Linked DNA regions of Homo sapiens. The protein of the gene in region 2 purifies or fractionates together with the protein of the main gene of each other region. This does not show direct contact. Each region holds a gene or a part of one and is shown on either strand. Other genes may lie near its edges.

Region 1 (7,000 bases), on a different chromosome or scaffold from region 2:
TAAATAATTCACATTTTTAAACATCTCACAGAATAGAAAAACATATGAAAGAAGATGGTTCTTGGGAGAAAACCAGAAGGATACCGATTGTTTAAACCTTCAATAAGCTAAACACATTAATTCTTCAATACAGATGTCCCTTCTAGGTCAAGATCTATGAGTCAGAAGTAAAATTCACTGAGACAACTCCTGCTTAGAAGCCATGTTCTATGAAAACAGGGACTTTGCTTTGTTCCTGCTATATCCTCAGCATGTAGGACTCTAGCTGAGGTTCAACAATGAAGAGTTAAAAGCCCCCTGGATAGACATGGTATCTGTCCTGCCCCAGCTTCTCTCTGCTTCTGCCTCTTAGGAACCTGACTCACCCATCCAGCTCTCCTAGAACCTATAGTTTGTCAGGGACTGGTTCCAGGAAAGTCACCAAATTGATCCACGCTCCCTTTCTTCATTTGCAAGAAGAGGAAGGGCTGGGTGAGACCAGTGGTTTTATCCAGAGGTGTCTCCCTCCACAGCACCTGGAGAGCTTGTTCAAAAGGCTCAGACCAGGCCCCACCTGTGAGAGTCTATTGCACTGAAGCAGGGTGATGCTGATCTACAAGGCCCCACAGCCTCATCCCCTCAGAAAGCCAGGGGAGAGGGAGCAGTAGGGTGGTTTCCAGATAAACTAGTCCCTCCTTGCCAGAGGCTGCAGACCTAACTCAGAGCATTCGGAAAGCACCATCCAGGTGTCCTGCCCTCATGAGAAGAGGCATTTGGTTTGGCCCACGAGGAAAGCCATCAGCTGCAGGCTCTCTAGTGGACACATCCACAAGACAGACACTGTAGAGATGCTACAAATTAGAGTTTTTAGATCTCTGCAAGACTTAAAAAATTACAAGAAACAATAAAAATGAACTTGAGAGTTTTCCACAAATATAGAATTGTGTTGCAATGTCTCAGGCAAACCAGCTGTTTCATGGAAATAGTATTTCAGGAAGTACAAAAGAACACAGCTGAAAAGTTGTCATATGACTGAATTTAATAGTTTTTACAAATTCAAATGAAAATTGCTCCTTGTCTGTTGGAATTTTACCACAGTCAAGTTTCAGGAAATTAGAAGCCAACATTCTCATTTAATGCATAGAGGCAGAGCCCCATGTGGATAGAAGCGGAGGTAGATAAGGTCTGGGAAGTGGCTTCCAGACTCTCTGTAACCTCTCAGACTGCAGGCCAGTGCAGTCCCTGGTCTGTTGCAAAGGAGACCAGCGAATCATCAGCTCTTTACCCACTCTCCTCTTTGCTTGCTGCTTCTCTCTCTCCTGGCTTCCCAGTGGGGGCTCAGGAGTAAAAGCGGGTAGGATGCCCAACCCTACTCTGCAACTGTAAAGTTAGAAACAACTTCAGAGAGGATCTTGTATGGTTTCTGGGTTGGAAAACTCGGGCTGGGCCCTACTCCTTGACTAACTGACTACATGATTAGGATTGAATCACTGTACTTCTCTGAGCCTCAGGTGATTCAACTGCAAAAATGGGAATAAAAAGATATACCTCACAAGACTATTGTGAGAATTGAATCAGCTTAAATAAACTTTATGTGCAAAGCCCCCTGGAAATGAGAGTTTTTGCTTGAAATCAGTAACCATTCCTTTTACCAGTGAGCTATCTGCCCTTTTTCCCTTCTAGGGTGAGAGGATCCAATATGCCTGTGTGAGAAGGACTTTCAAGAGCAGAAAGCCTCATCTCAATGTAAAGAGGTGGAGGGCAAATACATTGCTATGGGACTTCTGCTTTCGGAGGAAGGAAGCATCCAAGGTCCAACTGTGCAGCCTTCAGTTTCTAGGCCAGCCTGGAACAAGACCCTACTGTGGCACCAACCCAAGCACTGTAGGTGACAAATGCTGAGAAAGAAGCCTGGTTTACTGCTTGAGTACCCCTCAGACTGATACTTCTGGATTAGACCTCAGCTGCCATGTCAGAACTGACTTCTATAAAGTTTTAATATAGTTAGTTTAGATATTCTCTAGAGGGACAACAGAGCCTGGAGCAGATGGGCATTTTCTTCTGATTCGAACCCTTATAATTTTTTAGGATTACATCTTACTTGATTCATCTGTGCGAGAACGTGCTGCTCATTCCTCAGAGGGTTCTGAAAAGCAAGGAGGGTATCAGCTCCTTGGGCAGCTGGCGAGCAGTAGATGCTGTCACTGAGAGAGTAAGACAATCTGGGTCCGAGAGAGCAGGGCAAGGTGCTATGGACAATGAAACACCTTAGTACTATCAACGGACACCTGGTGGGGACACCGTGATTCTGGAGTTGAACTGACAATGTGGCCTCTGAGACCCTTACTCCACACAGAGGTGGCCATTCAAACTGTGCATACTTCCCTCTGAGTCTTGAGTTCTGACTCTGAACTTGATTTCAAGTAGGCCAAGAGAACACAATGGGCCTTTTCACCTACCTTCCTGTAAGTACATGACTGCTTGGGAATAGTTCTGCAAGGCATGATGGGTCCTTCCAAGGCTACTATATGACACCGTCTTGGCCGCCAAGTCATTCATCTGTGCAGCAATGCTCAAGTGCTGTTCTTGATAGACCACAGCCCTCTCGAAGGTGCCCAGGGATTCATAAGTCAGGCCCAGGTTCCCATAGGCTCGGCCCTGGCACGTGGGGTTGTTGGTTTCCTCTGCTATCTGTAGATCAAGCTGGTGGTACTGCAGGGCTGTGTCATACTCCCCCATCTGCTGGTAAACGCCCCCCAGGCCACAGGCTGCGTCACTCTCCAGGGCTCGGTCTTTCATATCTCTAGCAATGTTCAGCTGGCGTTCAAGGCAGGAAATGGCTTGTTCGTAATTCCCTAATTGGCTGTGCAGACTTCCCAGCTCTCCATAGGCCTGGGCTTTATTGAAGGCCTCTCCAAGTTCATGAGCAACCACGAGCCTCTTTTCAAAGCACACAAGGGCTTGCTGCAAGCTCCCCATTGCCCTGTGGGGATGTAGACAGAAAAGCAATGATATTATTTCATGCAGGTGCAGACATGCTAAAGCCCCTGAGAAAATGAAAAGCATTTGTCACTGTCACTTACTATAGAAGCTCTTAACTCCTCTTCTAGCTAAAATCTATCATGTGCCCTTAGAGTGAGATGCAGAGGAATTTCATAATCTGGAAAGCAATTCAAAAGTCATCCCTTAGTGACCTTCCCAAGAGCTTGAGATTCAATGGGATATACACCCCAGAGGAAACATAAAATATATTAATAGGCACAATGATAGCAAGTGAACTGTTTGGTTCTTCAGGCCTCCCAATTTCCACTACCGCTTAGACTATGTTTTTGAAATCACTTCACAGTGGCTATAAATCTTTCACCCTGAGCTTCTCAGAGCACTCTGTGGGTGAAGATTTAGTTTGACCCTTGCCCTTCCTCCACTCCAGGAGCCCTAATCCCCTGCCTCTCTGGTGGGGCCATATATCCTGCAGACACAGGCACCTTCTTGGGTTCCCCACATTTAGGAGAAAGTATCACCTTGACCAACAGTGTGTCTTTTTCTGCTGCTAAGAGAAGACACGATAAGCGTGGAAAGAGTATGACCAAACCAGTTGTGTGGGGCACATGAATTAGTTCCCCTGAGCCTCCAATTCTGGTGATAATAAATCCCACATCCCACAGCAGATGATAATAGATATAGAGTAATACAAAACTGTTAAAACTATTAAGATATCTGTGCAAGGGACCTTGCACAGATGATGCATGCAACATAGTACATTTATGCATTCTCCTATTATCAGGTGGCTTTTCTGAGGAGCAACACAATGGGGCCTAAGTAATTGGTTAGGTGCAGATGTTGTATTAATAAACACATTCATATAATGTGGGAGGTATTCAGAAAAGATCAGCGAAAGTGACTCGTTCACCTTCCCCATCCCTATTATCCTTCTCATTCTAATGTAGTCAAAAGGCACTGCATTTGGAGTCACAGAGCCCTGGGTTTAACTCTCAGCTGTCCCTTTTAAGCTGCATAATCTTAGGCATTAACTCAATTTCTCTGGGCTTTAGTTTCTTCATCCATAACATAAGGGTAACAACATCAACTACTTGATTCAAACAGTTGTTGGAGGAATCAGATGAGATATGTACGAAAATGTTTGTAGTTAACAAACTGCCATGCAGACACGAAGTTGCCTTTACTGCCACAAATGCTCTTTTTGCAGAACTATAAACCACAATTGTCCTTGGTCATTTTTACCTGTGTCCATTTCCCAGGCCCCGGTAAGCCTTGGCTTGGTCTTGCATGCGATTCAGACTCTGCGCGACAGATAAATATTGTTCATAGTATTTGATAGCTTCCTCATAGTCACCCAGGGCTTCGTAGCAATCCCCCAGGTTGCCATAGGCCCGGCCCCTGTCGAGCACAGACTCATTTCCACTTAGCTGCTGCAGCATGGCCAATTGCTGCTCAAAGTAGCCAATGGCTTCTTCCATCACATTCATGTTCATCTTTGTGATGCCCATGTTGCCATAGACCTGGGCTTCCAGACTCGGATCCTTCAGCTTTTGCCCTAGATCCAGTTGCTCTTCATAACACTTGAATGCCATTGTGTATTTCCCAAGGGCCATGTAGACAGCAGCCAGGTGCCCATGAGCTCTGCACTCCCCTGGCAAGTCACTCAGCTCCTGATATACCTCCAGTTCCTGTGTGTGATAACCCAGGGCCTTGTCATACTTCTGGATCATTCGGTATGCAGTGCCCAGGGCTGCATATGCACTGGCTTCTAATCTTCTGTCCTTTACCTGGTGAGCTAAGCCCAGTTGCTGCTCATAGAATTTTATTGCACCATTTATATCTTTTTTACAGATGAATATATCGCCCAGGTTTCCTAGGGCTCGAAATTTAGCCTGGGAATTATTCAGAGACTGGGCTAGGGACAGTAGGTACTTCTGACACTCTTCAGCTTTACTGAAATTCAGCAGAGCCTTGAATGCTAGGCCCAAGTTGCAGTAGGCTTTTGCTTGGCTCAACTTGTCGTGAAGGTCTTTAGCCAGTGCCAGATCCTGTTCGTAGTACTTCACTGCCTCCTGATAGTTTCCAAGGCAGTAATGGGCATAGCCAAGATTGTGGCAGACCTTCCCTTCTCCTTCCATGTCTTGAAGGTCGGGAGCAAGCCGGAGGTACTGTTCATAATAGGGGGCAGCCTGGACATACTCTCCCCGAGAGCAGTGGAAATTGCCCAGGTTGCTGAGGGCCCGGGCCTCGCTCTGGATGTCTCGTAGCTCCCGGGCGATGTTCAAGTGGTTCTGATAGTGTTGCAGGGCCCGGTCATGGGCACCCAGGGCCTGGTAGGCCACGGCAAGGTTCCCATGTGTGGAGGCCTGTGAGGCGCGGTCATTCACTTCCATGGAGATCTGCAGCTCCTGCCGATGGTATTTGACCGCCTGGTCGTACATGCCCAGGGCATTGTAGGCATTGCCCATATTCCCATAGGCACGGCCCTGGGCAGCATAATCACTCAGCTCCTGGGCAATGCACAGGTGGGTCTTGTGGAGTTTCAGTGCAGTGTCATAATCACCTTTCATCTGGTGTATGATTCCTGAGAAAGAGAATAAAAGAACAGACTAAGACTGAAATAACTGATTTGCAATGTAGAAAGAAATGTAATTTGCATCTCAATTTATAGTAAAATGCAATCCAGATGAATTAAAGAATTTAAAATAACAGAAGGTAGAATTAAATATTTATCAGCTCTCCACAGAGAGGATAGCTTAAGTTTCAAAGCAACAGAAAAAAACATTTACTGATTTTATTACAAAAATAAGAATGTTTGTACTACAAATACATATCTAAAATTAAAAGGCAAAACAATACTGGAAAATATATTAAACATAAATGAAAAAGTTCAATAGCCATTGCGTATAAAGAGTTTATTTGGTTTGATTTTTTAAAAATGAAGATCCCAATTTACTAAAATAGGCGAAGACCTGTAAATGTTAGCAGACAACTCACATCCACAGAAATACAAAGAGTAACCACAAGGGAAAATGCTAATTTCCTTTAATAATCAATGAAATGCAAAATAAAGCAACCCTGAAGTACCATGTTGCTTTGGCTAAATTAGCAAACAAAAAAATTAACCACAACTCCTACACTGATGAGATTGTCCTAAAATTGGTAAACACACCAACTGCTGGGGACATAAACTGGAACAACCTTTTTGCATAAGCAGCCTGGCAAGAACCACAAACGGCGCTCCTACTCTGACCCAGCAATCTTACTCGAGGGAAAGTATCCTAAGAAAATAATCTGACAAACACAAAAGATTGCATAACAATACACGTAACAACCTTCAATGTGGCACCATAAACTACTGGAAAATCAGAAACATCTTAAATGTGAAACACTGGGGGATTGTATAAGTACATTTTGGTATATCAACTCAATAGAGGATTATGCAGTCATTAAAAAGATAATTATGAAGTCTATGCTGAAAAATGGGAAACAATGTTCTTGTAATCATATTAACTGGAAAAATCAGGAAAAAATGCTGCATGCTCCCGTGACAATAACTAGGAAAGTAAGTATGTCCATACACACGGACAAGCTCTTGACGGGGTTATACAAAAACAAAAATAGTTGCCTTGTTAGGTAGTGGAATTTCAGTAATTTTTGTTCTAAAATCTCTTGTAATTCTGCTATACTGCTTTTACAATCAACAATAACAGTGCTCCAAACAAACCTCATGAACCATATTATAGCTGCTAAGCTAAACTATTGTTTTAACAAGCAGTTTAAAAAAGTGAGTTATATCATACATATCATAACTATAAAGTGGTTTCAAATGAGGGATAGCATAATGGTAACTTGGGAGCTGGCTTTAAGGAGAGCTTCGTCCATCCCAGTTGGGGCTAGAGTGAGGGCCACCACTAGAAAAGGTGGAGAGAAGCTAGTATGCAAACAGGTTTCTCCTTGCCTTTGGTTTTGAACATGCTTTTCCATGCATCAGTCTGTGAGCTTTCCAGTGGTGACTAAA
Region 2 (6,028 bases):
ACCAAAAGTTGTTTTCTTTAAAAAATAAGAAACTTTAGGGCCAGCGCAATGGTGCAAGCCTGTAATCCCTGCACTTTGGGAGGCCGAGGCAGGTGAATCCTTTAAGGTCAGGAGTTCGAGACCAGCCTGGCCAACATGGTGAGACACACTCCCCCACCCCCGCCCAGTCTCTAGTAAAAATGCAAAAATTAGCCGGGCGTGGTGGCGTGCACCTGTAATCCCAGCTACTCGGGAGGCTGAGGTAAGAGAATCACTTGAACTGAGGAGGCAGAGATTGCAGTGAGCCGAGATCCTGCCACTGCACTTCAGCCTGGGCAACAGAGTGAGACTCTGACCAAAAAAGAAATTTTGCAGCTCCAAGGCTTGAAGTCATTTATGTTGCCAGGGGTAAGAGCTTGGTTGAAGGGCTAAAAGACTAGAAACTACTGAAGATGCCCTTCTTACTGTCAGTAAAGCTGCTGGAGACAAAAGAAGTTGTTCTCGCTGCTAGAGTGGTAATTTGAGAATCATCAGTATTCCTATGTGACAATCCAAAATTACTGGTTTTCATTTGACTTGTAAATGACACCCATCATCCATCTGCCCACAAACCTGGCCAAATGTGATACAACCTGAAAACCTGATGGACTAAAGGAGTACTATTTAACAATTGATTGCCTTTGCACTTTATTCAGGTTGTTTCTTAAATTTTGGTAGACAGATCCATTTGTATATGTGTGTGTTATATCTAGTTTATGGCTATAGAGAAGGTTTAAAATACTACAGTGTCCTTCCCTCAAGGTTAAATTAGAAGCTGCCTGCCTTTTAGTTGTTTCTTGCCTTTAATAAAATGTTATCAGTTCCCCCAGATTTCCTGGCACTGTGTTCTTCTTCCACTTGACATAGTCAGGCATCTTAGCAACAGTATAGTACCCCAACCTAATGATCCCTGAATGTGTATATGTGTTTCAAACTCCATTTTTCTTATTTTTTAATTGTAATCTCACAACATTACCATTTTTCTTTTTATTTTTATTTTTAAGTTCTGAGGTACATATGCAGGATGTGCAGGTTTGTTTCATAGGTAAATGTGTGCCATGATGGTTTGCTGCACCTATCAATCAACCCATCACCTGGGTGTTAAGCCCAGCATGCATTAGCTATTTTTGCTAATGCTCTCCCTCCCTCTACCCTACCCACTGCCAGGCCCCAGTGTGTGTTGTTCCCCTCCCTATGTTCATGTGTTCTCATTGTTCAGCTCCCACTTATAAGTGAGAACATGCAGTATTTGGTTTTCTGTTCCTGCGTTAGTTTGCTGAGGATAATGGTTTCCAGCTCCATCCATGTCCCTGCAGAGGACTGTTGCTTTTTATGGCTGCATAGTATTCCATGGTGTATATGTACCACATTTGCTTTATCCAGTCTGTCATTGATGGGCATTTGGGTTGATAACCATCCATTTTTCTTTGTAAGAAAAAGATCCAAAAACTTCTTGCCATGTTTGGCACATCTCCAATACAAACCACGTGATATAACTGGTTTTTTTTTTTTTAGATAATCCCACTTTAAAACAAGATATTTAATTGATTGTTTCAGGTATGACTGTCAGGAGCAAATTATCTTTTCCCCGAAGAACAGCCATGGAAAGGGAATCACTGTCAAGAGCTTTAACAACATCAGTTGTAGTAGTAATAGGTTTCCCATTTATGTTGACAATTACATCGTGATCTCTCAATCCAGAGCTGAGAGAGGGAGAAAAAAAAGAGGATCATGAAACTATAACAAGAATTTTACTTATCCCCATCTATAATTTAATATTTCTGTCTTAATGGCACTATTTTGCTGGCATTAAGCATACAAACGAGAAAATAGCCTCAATCCTTCCAAATCATAAAGCTATTCTAAAATATGCTGCAAAAAAGTCACCTAGAGGACAACTGTCTTATTTACCTTTATAAAATTAATTTCCTATCAGAATCATGTGAGAAGTTTACTCCTCCCATTTTGGGGAGTTGGTTTGGAAGGGGGAGTTTAGCTTTTAATTTCTATCAACCCCTGACCTCTGTGAACTTCAAACATGCTCCCAGCCTCAGCAGCCAAAGTGAAAAGCCCAAGCAATATGTTTTCTCCCAGACACTTAAACTCGGCTCAGTTTGATTCTGGCAGCCCACTCACTTGCCTGTCTTTCCCACCCCACCCCACCCCCCCGCCCCAGCTTATGGAGCTGGGAAGGATGCTGAGCTGCATTATAGGAATTCTGCTTCCACTAAATCAAAAACCCGCCAACCTTCTGAGTCTAAATATTTCCAGCTCTGGCTCTAGGCTCCTTTTCTCCAAAGTTGTGACTTTATTGCCTTCAACATAATTGCTTCACATAGAGTATATATTCTAGAAGCAAAAACCAGCTCCAAATACAAAACACTACAATACAGAAATAGCCATGCCAGTGATTTGGTGAAAATAGGCTGAAAAAGGAACAGCAAATGACTCCAGGAGACACCACTTGATAGAAATGGGAAGCTCAAGGAAGAATGATAATGTGGTTTGATCATCAAGATATGTGGAGTTTAAAAAGAAGAAGCTTAACGCAAGAGGATATGAAGAGACGCTTAAGTATAAAACTAAAATCAAGAAATAACCTTAGAACAAAGACAGTTTAGGAGGATGACTTAGGACCAGTGAGTACAAAGAAAGAACTTATAGAGAACTTAATTCATACTAGTCCTGTGAGTCAGAAAAGAGAAAAAGAAACCTGCAAATTATTACTAATAACCTATGCACCAAATATGAGGAACTATGGCTCAGACAGGACAAATGACCTTTTTCTGTGTCATGCAACTTGTGAGAGGGATTTCATCCTGGGTCTTTCAGACTTGGGAACCCATCTTCTTGCCACTAAATCACTCTGCCTGTCAGAAACAGAAAAGCAGCCACCAAAGCAGGATAATAGAAGGGTTCAGCCAGGGCCCACATCCCTGCTCTCTGCTCTCTGATTTACTGCGTTCTACAAGTTAATGAACCTCTTTGTACCACAGCTGCTTCCTCTATAAAATAATACCTATATCATAAAATGTTGGGAGCACAAACAGGTGTATAAAACACTTCAAATAGGCCAGGAGCAGTGGCTCACACTGTAATCCCAGCACTTTGGGAGCCACAGGCGTGTGGATCACCTGAGGTCAGGAGTTCGAGACCAGCCTGCCCAACATAGTGAAACCTCGTCTCTATTAAAAGTACAATAATTAGCTAGGTGTGTAATCCCAGCTACTTGGGAGACTGAGGCAGAAGAATCGCTTGAACCCAGGAGGCGGAGGTTGCAGTGAGCTGAGATCATGCCATTGCATTCCAGCTGGGGCAACAAGAGCGAAACTCAGTCTCAAAAAAATAATAATAATAAAAATAAAACACTTCAAATAGTGCCTGAGATATAGTAAAAGTTTTGTAAGTGCCAGATAGTGGTGTAATTATCATTATATTAGGTATAAGTCAGTGAAAGCCAGAAAGAATAGATTTGTTTGAGACAGGTTCTCACTCTCTTACCCAGGCTGGAATACAGTGGTGCAGTCATGGCTCACTGCAGCCTCAAACTCCTGGGCTCACATGATCCTCCTGCCTCAGCCTCCCTACAGGCACCTGCCACCACACCCAGCTGATTTTGTTTATTTTATTTATTTGTCTTTAGAAACTATGTTGCTCAGGCTGGTCTCAAACTCCTGGTTTCAAATGATCCTCCCACATCATGGCATGAGCCACCATGCCCAGTCCTGATTTCTGTTTATCAGCAACTTCCAGCACTAATTTTCACATTTTAACATACACATGAATCACCTGGGGATCTTGTTAAACACACAGATTCCGATTCAGTGGATCAAAGGTGGGACCTGGGATTCTGCCTTTCCAACAAGCCCCAGCTGAGCTAATGACGCTGGTCTACAGACCACATTCTGAGTAGCAAGGACTTAGCCGAAAGAAATAGCTTTGGTCTTGAACCAGAACTTAAGGAAATGGGGGAAGAGTGGAGCAGAGCAGGAATGAGAAAAGTCCAGAGAAACCAGGGACAAGCCAAATTTAGTAACATGAGACCTATGACTGCTGTGCTGAACAGTGCCCTCTGATTTCACTAGGGGGAAAGCCCCAGTGAAAGTGGTGCCATAATCTAAACAGATTACTGAGCTCTTGAAAAATAAAAACAATGAGAAAGGGATAATAAAGAAGTACAGACCGCGGGCGGTGGCTCACGCCTGTAATCCCAGCACTTTGGGAGCCCGAGGCAGGCGGATCACAAGGTCAAGAGATGGATACCATCCTGGCCAACATGGTGAAAACCCATCTCTACTAAAAATACAAAAATTAGCTGCGCGTGGTGGCACACGCCTGTAGTGCCAGCTCCTCGGGAGGCTGAGGCAGGAGAATCACTTGAACCCAGGAGGCAGAGGTTGCAGTGAGCCGAGATCGCATCACTGCACTCCAGCCTGGTGACAGAGCGAGACTCCGTCTCAAAAAAAAAAAAAAAAAAGAAGTACAACAGAAAAGCCCAGGAGAATGATATTTGTAGGACAAGCCACCTCTCTCAGTACTTAGTATTAAATGTTTTGAAACAACAGTGAAATCAGCTGGAGAACCTTCTTTTGGAAGCTGTCCTAGCCTTTGCTTTATTACACAGGTCTTAGCGCTGGCCTCTGATATTGTCATTCAGAGTTCAAAGAAAAATGTAGGTTTTGTGAGGTTTTGGTGTAGTTTTTTTTTGCTTGTTTGTTTGTTTGAGACAGGGTCTCACTCTGTTGCACAGGCTGGAGTGCAGTGGCATGAGCACAGCTCATTACAGCCCAGACTCAGGTGATCCTCCCATCTCGACCTCCCCAAGTAACTGGGACCACAGGTGCAAACCACCACACCTGGCTAATTTTTGTTTTTTGTTTTTTGTTTTTTTAAATGGGGTCTCGCTTTCTTGCCCAGGCTGGAGTACAGGGGCGTGATCCCAGCTCACTGCAACCTCTGCTGCCCAGGTTCAAGCGATTCTCTGACCTCAGCCTCCCAAGTAGCTGGGATTACAGGCATGCGACACCACACCCAGCTAATTTTTATATTTTTTAAGTAGGGATGGTGTTTCACCAAGTTTGCCAGGCTGGTCTCAAAATCCTGACCTCAAGTGATCTGCCCACTTTGGCCTCCCAAAGTACTGGGATTACAGGCGTGAGTCACGGCACCTGGCCTAATTTTTATTTTTTGTAGAGACAGGGTTTCACCGTGTTCCCCAGGCTGGTCTCGAACTCTCAGGCTCAAGCAATCCTCCCACCTCAGCCTCCCAAAGTGCTAGGATTACAGGGCTGAGCCAACATGCCCAGCCGAAAAATGTGTTTTAAAATACCTAAAATATGGCCAGGCGTGGTGGCTCATGCCTGTAATCCCAGTACTGTGGGAGGCCGAGGTGGGTGGATCACTTGAGGTCAGGAGTTCGAGACCAGCCTGGCCAACATGGTGAAACCCTGTCTCTACTAAAAATACAACAATTAACCAAGCGTGGTGGCGGGTGCCTGTAATCCCAGCTACTCGGGAGGCTGAGGCAGGAGAATTGCTTGAACCTGAGAGGTGGAGGTTGCAGTGAGCCAAGATTGCACCACTGCACTGCAGCCTGGGCAACGAGTGAGACTCCATCTCAAAAGAAAAAAAAACTATTAATGAATAATTAATAGTTACTAATACCTAATAGGTGTTAATCACTTAATAGTTATTAAGTAATAACTATTAATGTTGAAAGGGTAGATTTGGGAATTCCTAGCCAAATTAATTTAAACTTATGCTATTAACTCATAACATGAGCTCTTCTTAGACTATAGAGAACCACCTCCCTCCCAAAATACAAAAAAAGCCTTTATAAGTACCCAAGTCTGAATCAGCACTGTCCTGTAGACAATAATGCAAGCCACATACATAATTTTAAATTTTCTTGTAGCCACATTTTTAAAAATTTTTAAATAGATGAATTTAATTTAATAATATATCTTATTTAATACAATATATCCAAATATTATCATTTAACGTGATATTT
Region 3 (8,092 bases), on a different chromosome or scaffold from region 2:
TCTTTTATTCCAGAGGTCACTGAGAAAAGTACCATCTGCTAAAATTCTCTTTCAAGCACTTCTTCCATCATATCCTAGAGGTGAGATATGGGAAACAGAAAGCAAATCAGTGTTTCCTTCAGGAGCTATATTCTGTTACTCAATTGAGGTAAGACAAAGTGACAATGAAGATATGAGTAGTATTTCCTTCCAATTTTTAAACATTTTCAGAAGCTGAGATCAAACCCCAGTCAATAAAATGCAGGACACTAGAAGCAACAACTTATTTTGGACTCCTGAGATCAAACACATTGAACTTTCAAATCTGGTGTTTGTATCAAAATGTGATTTTCATTAAAATCAGGTAAGCTAGTCCTACATAAAAAAGCATGAGCTGAAAGTGGAGGACCCTCTATCTTCTCATTCCTTAACTGAGCCACCGATGTTAAGAAAAAAATGGCTTAAGCGGTACCTTCAACAACTATTCTAGTTAAGAAGGTGACAACAAATTCCTTTCAATAGGTTCTCTCAAGAAAAGTTTTCCACACAACCATCCCAGTCTTTACAATTTTTTACCTAGCACCATCATAATAAAATGTTATCTTTCAAAGTGCTCTCTAAAATCCTGTTACATTATCTAAATGCTAATCACTACTCAAATCAGCAGTTACACAGACGTTAGGTAATTAAAACAGCACAGAGGTAAATAACCATTATTACAGTACAGTGGCGATTCACTAGCCCAACTGGCATCCAAACATTCCCATAGGTTATCAGAGAACCCAGAAAACCCATCTGTTTCAGTTTGTCAAATTCAAGTGAATTGTATTTTCTTAAGTAATTTGCTTTACAAAAAAAGAAAGTCACCGCATCTGGTTTTGGCTAGGTATATTACACATGGCATGCAAAGAGAAATTACTACTATGTTATTTGCATAGCACTCAAACTTCCTGATCAGAAGATAATCTCAACATAATAAAAGAGTGGATTTTCACATTGGTATGCACAAATAAAGAATATAAGCTACAGTTATTTTTACAAAATAACACAGATGAATGAATACTGTGTTAATTCAGAGTTCAATCTCCAAATGAGAACAGAGTGCAACATGCAAAGGGAACCTCTAGTGAATACTGCAAAGACTGGAAGAAAACAGAATGTAAGATGTTACCTACCTAAGGGTAACAAGCTATAAAATACAAAGCAAAACCATTTTCTAGCAGCATCCTCTAGAAAAGAACTAGAAGTCACAATCATATTATCTTCTATACAATAGTTCCAGCCCTGACAAGTAGAACATGCAAGTGTAAAGTGAAAGTGATACACAACCAATGGTGCGGGGGGGGGGGGGAGGAAGAAAACAACTCTAGAAACCTGTCAAGCTAAAAATTTTTAACATTTCTTCTCACAAAATATTTAGAATCTGTCAGTGCATTAGTGTTAAAGTGGCATTAAAAAAACTTCTGCAGTTCTAACTGATGCAGATTATTTTCAAAATGCATAGCATCTACATTTCTTTCGAGTAGGCACCATGATATTTACACCAGTGCTAAGAATTCTTGGTGGAAACAGCCATTTCATTGGATTTCCTACTATTCTTCTATGCAATCTCAACAAATACCAAAATTCAAAAATATACCTTATGAATATTAAAAGAACTATATACAACATTGCTAAGACACAGTTAATAGGCTGCCTTATGTGAATATTAAAGAGAAGACATTATTCAAGTTTGACAGATATTGAGATGAAAGGCCTTTGGGTTGGAAGCATTTTAAAAGACAACAGTGTTTTAGGCTGAGAATTGTTTGAGCCCAGTTTATGACTAAGGCATTGCATAATAAAATATACATTTCTATTTGGTGCAACGTTATGTTTGGAATCTATAGTGTGTCAAATGGTATATTTTCTTGTCACTTTAGTAAACACTATAAAGCACACATTTCCAACATCTGAAATCAAACTTATAAACTTATAAGGAAAAAAGCCAAACACTAAATCTATAATGTTTTATATTAAGCTGTTTATAAAAAATACTTTAACAAACTTATCTTCTACTTTTTACGGGGACAGTCACTTGATCAACAAACAGATTCTGAATGAAGAAAACTGGCAATGCCAGGAATTAACCTGCCCCCTTGAACTCATGTCCAAAATGTCTTGTCCAGTATGGGAGTGAAGGTAAGGGGGGCTGGGGAGAGGAAAGAGTTCCAACTGCGGTTTTTACTTTATTGTATTTTTTTTAAAGCCTTCAGAAACATTCCACCTAAGAGTTTCTGTTAGAAAATACTTCGGCAACAACCATCAAGTGTGCTGTCCCCTATGGCCATCTCCCATCCCTGATCTCCTCCTATCTCCCCTAAATGGTCGCCCTCTGACATTTCGATGGTACTGATAACCTTCATCCCGACTTCTGCTTGGCTGTCCTTTCCAGGACTCCTCACTTCTCACATGTTGATATCCACCCCTACCAGAATAGCCCCAATCACTTTTGTACTTCCTGCTTCCATAAGTTTGATTATAGAACTGCTTGGATCTACCACTTCTCAAAATATTAGACACTTCATTTTCATCTTCTGAACTCTCTTCTTTTGGTCTTTGCACTCTGCTATCAACAGAGTTGGCCCCAGGGCTGACCACATCAGCAGCAGTCTTAGGATCTTTTACTTTTTCTGTTTTTTCTTTCAGGCTTTGAATGGTCCTTTTAGGTTCAAGTTCAACAGGCACAGTTTCTCTCTCTCTGTTTAGAATCTGAGTGGGAGGATGAGCCTTTCCCTCTGCTACAGGAGGGATGGAAGCCAATGCCGTATCTGCCTTTCGTGTCTGGGAAGATTGCTCTGTCCGGCCTTCGTCCGGCTTACTGCTCACACTTGCTTCAGGGAGAGAATGTACATGTTCACCCCTGGCTTCTGGAAACTCATCTACTGTTGAAACTGAACCACAATCTTTAGACAGATCCAGATTTTCCAGAGACAGATCCAATTCTCCTTTTTCATCAGAGGGCAGGACAATATTCTGCCTCATTACTGGATTTTCTATGAATCCCTGAAAAGGGTACCCATACCAAACATGAGGAAAGAAAGGAGGTGCAATAGGAACTGGGCCTAAGAATGGATTGGGTCCAAAAGATGGCTGGGGGAACATATTCTTGCCACTTAGTGACTCTTCATAATCAGCATGCAGAAGCTGCCCAGGGGTCTCAGATTCAAGATCAGCCTGGTAAGACAATTGTCCATGACTTTCAGACACCTGAGATGGAGGGATAACCAGAGGTGAAGAAAATGTCGGCGGTCCAATCTCTGGCTGTGGCATTTGACCATTAACACTGGCCTCAGTCTGCATAGGAAAGTGGGCATCAGTACAGGTACAATCACTTTCATTCTGAGCAGCAGGAGCCTCTTGGAACCAGGGATTATGAGGATAAACAGGGACAGGGACCTTTGGGTACATCCTGCAGGCTGCCAGGTAGGCCTGGTGCAGAGGGTACAGGTAAGAATGTGGGGCCCACATAGGACAACTGTATGCCTGAAGAGACAAAAAACAGTTAAATAAACAAAAGAGGAGAAAAAAGAGAGGTTTGGGTGGATATCAATCTACAAGTACTAGGGTCAAAATAAGTTTCTCATGCCTACAAAGACCATATAATCTATAGTCCAAATACTAAATCACTGTGATAACCAACGTGAAAATGAATTACAAAATTCACTGCTTTAAGACTCCATTGCTTGCTCCTGTCCTAAAACCAATCTGAAGTCCTCATAGGTTGATAGGAGATAGTATCTCCATCACTGACTGTTTAGCCAGACCTGCATTCACATTCGGGCTCTACCACTAACTCACTGTGTGACCCCATGCAGGCCAGTTAACATCTGAATTTGTTTTACTGGGAATGTCAGTATAAGAGTAGATGATCTCCAATGTCAGGACTCTGCAATTCTAGGAGCCCCCAAGAGTACTCCGAATGTAAGGATTAAGTTAGACCTCTAATCAGGGAGGGATAATGTTGAAAATGAAATATTCCAAATCCTTCCTCTGCAAGAGTTCAGCTAAAAACCAAAATATGAAGAAAGTATAACCAGCTAATTGGCTAACCAATTAAAATCAACATTAAATACATTAAAATTAAGCAATGCAGCAGATAGTAAAATAATCAAGTTTCTTTTTATGAAAGTGGTCAGCAGGCTAAAGGTAGGGCACTTCGTTTCATAGTTTAACTGTCTAGAACCCACAAAAACTAATCTAGGTCAGGAGAAAACCTAACATTTAACAAGGACAGAGTTCTCCAACCTAAGAAAAGCTATTTCTAGGTTGACCACTTCCCAAAGGATACCTCTGCTCTTCTAGTCAACAACCACACTATCTTACATAGGAGGATGTACACGTTATTTCCTTTGATCTTTTCAATAATGGAGGCAAGTAAAGAATATTACCCCCATTCTATAAATGAAAAAAGCTAGGCCCAGATACACTACATGGCTTGCCCAGGGAAATTCAGCTAAAGAGTGATGGAGCAGAACTTCAAGCCCAGATTTACATCTAATTATTCCCCAGCAAGGGCATTTCCACTAGGCTGCCCAAAGATGCAGCTATGTCTTAAATATACTCACAGGTTAAGCCATCACCAGTTAAGACAAAAAAGTAAGTAAAACTGGAGCCTCTACTAGCACCAAAAACAAACGATATAGTACTGAAAATGCTGGTTTTTAAAATGATGAGATTTAGTAAACTTTAGGTTACTGACTGACAGGGTAAGAGTTAACACTAGTAATAATTTAAAACACTATTAATGAATAAAATAACTTTTAAGATGATAAAATGTAAATACCTTCACACCAAGATTGAAGAAGAATCGAAGAATATTCTTATCTAAAAATAAAAGTAATCACTTGTTAAAATTATATATCTGCAGAGATTTTTTTAAATCATCCTCATTAAATATATAGTTCTAAAGACAATTTTACCTACTATAATTGTCTTCTCTAGCCTGTGATACAAAACATAGATAAAAACTGTAATATAACACAACCCAAAAACAGGTTGTTCCCAAAGGTTAATTCCAGATTCAATAGGCTTTGTCTGTTAGCATATAAATCCCAAAATGGCTTAGATTGAAATTTTTATCTCATTAAAACTGAATCTGGGTAAAGGACATTCAGGTGGCTTTCTTTCTCAACTTTTCTGGGGGTTTAAAAATTAGGAAATAAAAATGTTGAGAAGAATGGTAAAATCAACATAAAACCTAACTTATTAGTAGCATCATTTGCAGGATAATATTCTTCCAAGTATTCATATGCCATGAGCCAGTTACTCATAGACACAAACATCAAACTACTAACTAATAAAACAAAAACATCCACATAAATCCAGGTAAACAGCATATAGTAGTCAGTGCATTACTCAAATTTACAGATATAAAATTTTGGAAACTAAAAAGGAGGGAGGTGTAAATTCCTTAAAAATAAAGAGGGAAAGCAAACTTTGAAAGAATTTTTTAAACAAAAATAAGACATACTAAATATAGTACTTTAACAGCCACTACATACTATATTTGCTTTTCTCTGTAACTTTTTCACGGATGCATGTCTGAAATGCAGACCAGTGTTGATAAAGCTCCACAGTGTTTAGGTATCTAATTAGTGAAATTATTATTGTAATTCAGAATGGTTTCAAGTCCATTTATGTAAAAACACAGAAGGAGGTATCATTACTAAGCATACTAGCATTAACAAGTATGCTAGAAACAAAAAAAAATTTTCTGGGCCAGGCGCGGTGGCTCACACCTGTAAACCCAGCACTTCGGGAGGCCAAGGCACGCAGATTACGAGGTCGGGAGATCGAGACCATCCTGGCTAACACGGTGAAACCCCGTCTCTACTAAAAAATACAAAAAATTAGCCAGGCCTGGTGGCATGTGCCTGTAGTCATCCCAGCTACTCAGGATGCTGAAGTGGGAGAATTGTTTGAATCTGGGAGGTGGAGGTTGCAGTGAGCCGAGATCACACCACTGCACTCCAGCCCGGGTGACAGAGCGAGACTCCGTCTCAAAAAAAAAAAAAAAAAAAAATTATAATACATTTTCTAATAAATCAAGCTGAAACAAGAATGACTGACTAATAGCTAAAACTTTGCTGTCCTTCCCATCCTTGAGCTTACTAAGAAACCAGACCTCTGACCTCTACTTACATCTCTTCATTTCTTAACTAAGCTTATTTGGACTTGATAAAGTCGATTTGAACTTGGAGAAGGAGCTCACCTTTAGGTAGGTCCTCCCCAGTCTGACACAGTGAATAAGGTGGTACAATGGCTCGATCTCCCTTTTCATTACAAGGAAACCCAGGATAGAGTGGGTCTTGATAAAGGCTCAATGTCTGAGGCAAAGGCATCAAGGGCTGGTTAACTGCCTGTATTGACACAGGAACTGGAGAGGGTGTTAAATGAGCTTGGGATACAGCTGAATCAGGTCCAGTGGTCAAAGTCTGTGTCACTGACAAAACGGGAATTGGAGCAGGGACACCTACAAAAGAGAAGAAAAGGAATCAAAATGACAAAAGATGAAAATCTCTACAAATATGCTTACATTAACCTATAAAGAATGCTGTATAACTGATAAAGCCAATCTAAAGTAGTACCTTTTAGTATCAACCAAGAGCCCTCCTGGACACCAAGAAGGAAATACGTCCAGGATACAAGCTCTGAGTCAATGTCTTCTAATAGTAGCTCTTGCAGGCACGTGTAGGACATGGGGCTGGTCAAGGGGTTCATTACGGGGCCATAAAGAGCTGGCCCATGAAGGAAGCATCAAACCGTGGTGCTAATTAGTGCTGAGCAACCAAAGCAACCAGCTCAAACATCATGCTCCTGAGACTATGAGGGCATATGTCAGATGAATACAACACCAAATGTACATGGTCTTTCCACATTGGAAGCAGAGCAAAGCAGAGTATCACAGAAAGCTCTGTGAGGCTCCACACACCTAATCCTGCTCAGAGGTCAAACTTCCACTCAAGAATTTGAAGTCTCTGACTAGAAAGGTATTTTGGCTGGCTAGATTTTCTAAACCCTTCTCTAACCTGTTGGTCCAAAAGTTGTAGGTTCACTTGGCCAGGCTGGCACAGTGGCTGGTAAAGAAGGCACCGCAGGAGTTAGATGTACCTCTGGAGAAACTAGAAGGGGAGCTGGATTTGACAAAGACACATGTTCTGCTGGCTTCTTCAAGAAAGGGGTGAGTGGGGGAAGACAGAAAAAGACAAGAGGTCATTTTGCTTTAACACTATTTCTAACCACCAGATACATATTGAGTTGCCTGCCTTTTATACAAATGAAGTACAAATAGCCCTTATAGTCTTAGAAATGTAAGAAAAACACACAGTAGCTAAAGATAATATGCAAACAAATTTGATCCTAACCAAGGGTTGCCTACCAACAAGGACTGTATTTTTTAATACAGACAGGGTTTCACCCTGTTGCCCAGGCTAGTCTCAAAACTCTTGGGCTCAAGCGATCTGCCCGCCTTGGCATCCCAAGGTGCTGGAATTACAGGCGTGAGCCACCGCACCTATCCACTAGCAGAGTTAAATACAACACAATACTTTTAAGGCAAGTGAGCAAAATCATTGAAATCTTGAAATTCATGATTATTTAGAAAAACTCCTCATGTAACTATATGCTTTCTTACCAATATGAAGAATGTTGGTTGAAAGGCATTTAACATTTAACTTTCTCTACTCTTGTATTAGTCAAGAACTAAAATGTCTGCTAGAACACAGGTTCATCATGAAATTTGTAAATTGGTATTTTTTTAATGTATATTTTTCAAACCTTTTCAATCAGTACATTCCCTCCCATCTGTGAAATAACTGATGCAGATAACTCTTTTAAATTTTGAAATAAAGTAGAAATTCAGTTTCCCTTCAAAAATCTAATTTTCAAGGAAATCTACCAAAGTAATACAAAGTATCAAATATAACGATAACAAATATAAATATATTCAAAGTCAATTCAAAAAAATGGTCTCAATCACCAGAAAATGGTGGTTATTTCTATAACATTCCATAAATAGAGAACATTCTAGACTAACATCAGAATACATTTAAAAATCATAACCACAGCCAAA

What was found.
Region 1: the proteins of HTRA4 (region 2) and TTC28 purify together in Homo sapiens (affinity purification with mass spectrometry; 2 studies listed by BioGRID and IntAct, with this or other methods). This does not show direct contact.
Region 3: the proteins of HTRA4 (region 2) and OTUD4 purify together in Homo sapiens (affinity purification with mass spectrometry; 2 studies listed by BioGRID and IntAct, with this or other methods). This does not show direct contact.

The regions. Positions count from the first base shown.
Region 1 is NC_000022.11:28,102,841-28,109,840, forward strand, and holds part of TTC28 (tetratricopeptide repeat protein 28), read right to left. Parts: intron 5,564-7,000; coding exon 4,222-5,563; intron 2,963-4,221; coding exon 2,439-2,962; intron 1-2,438. UniProt on the Homo sapiens protein: During mitosis, may be involved in the condensation of spindle midzone microtubules, leading to the formation of midbody.
Region 2 is NC_000008.11:38,983,629-38,989,656, reverse strand, and holds the end of HTRA4 (serine protease HTRA4 precursor), read right to left. Parts: intron 1,722-6,028; coding exon 1,559-1,721; 3' UTR 994-1,558; downstream 1-993. UniProt on the Homo sapiens protein: Serine protease.
Region 3 is NC_000004.12:145,135,147-145,143,238, forward strand, and holds part of OTUD4 (OTU domain-containing protein 4), read right to left. Parts: intron 7,189-8,092; coding exon 7,050-7,188; intron 6,494-7,049; coding exon 6,233-6,493; intron 4,846-6,232; coding exon 4,805-4,845; intron 3,505-4,804; coding exon 2,284-3,504; 3' UTR 1-2,283.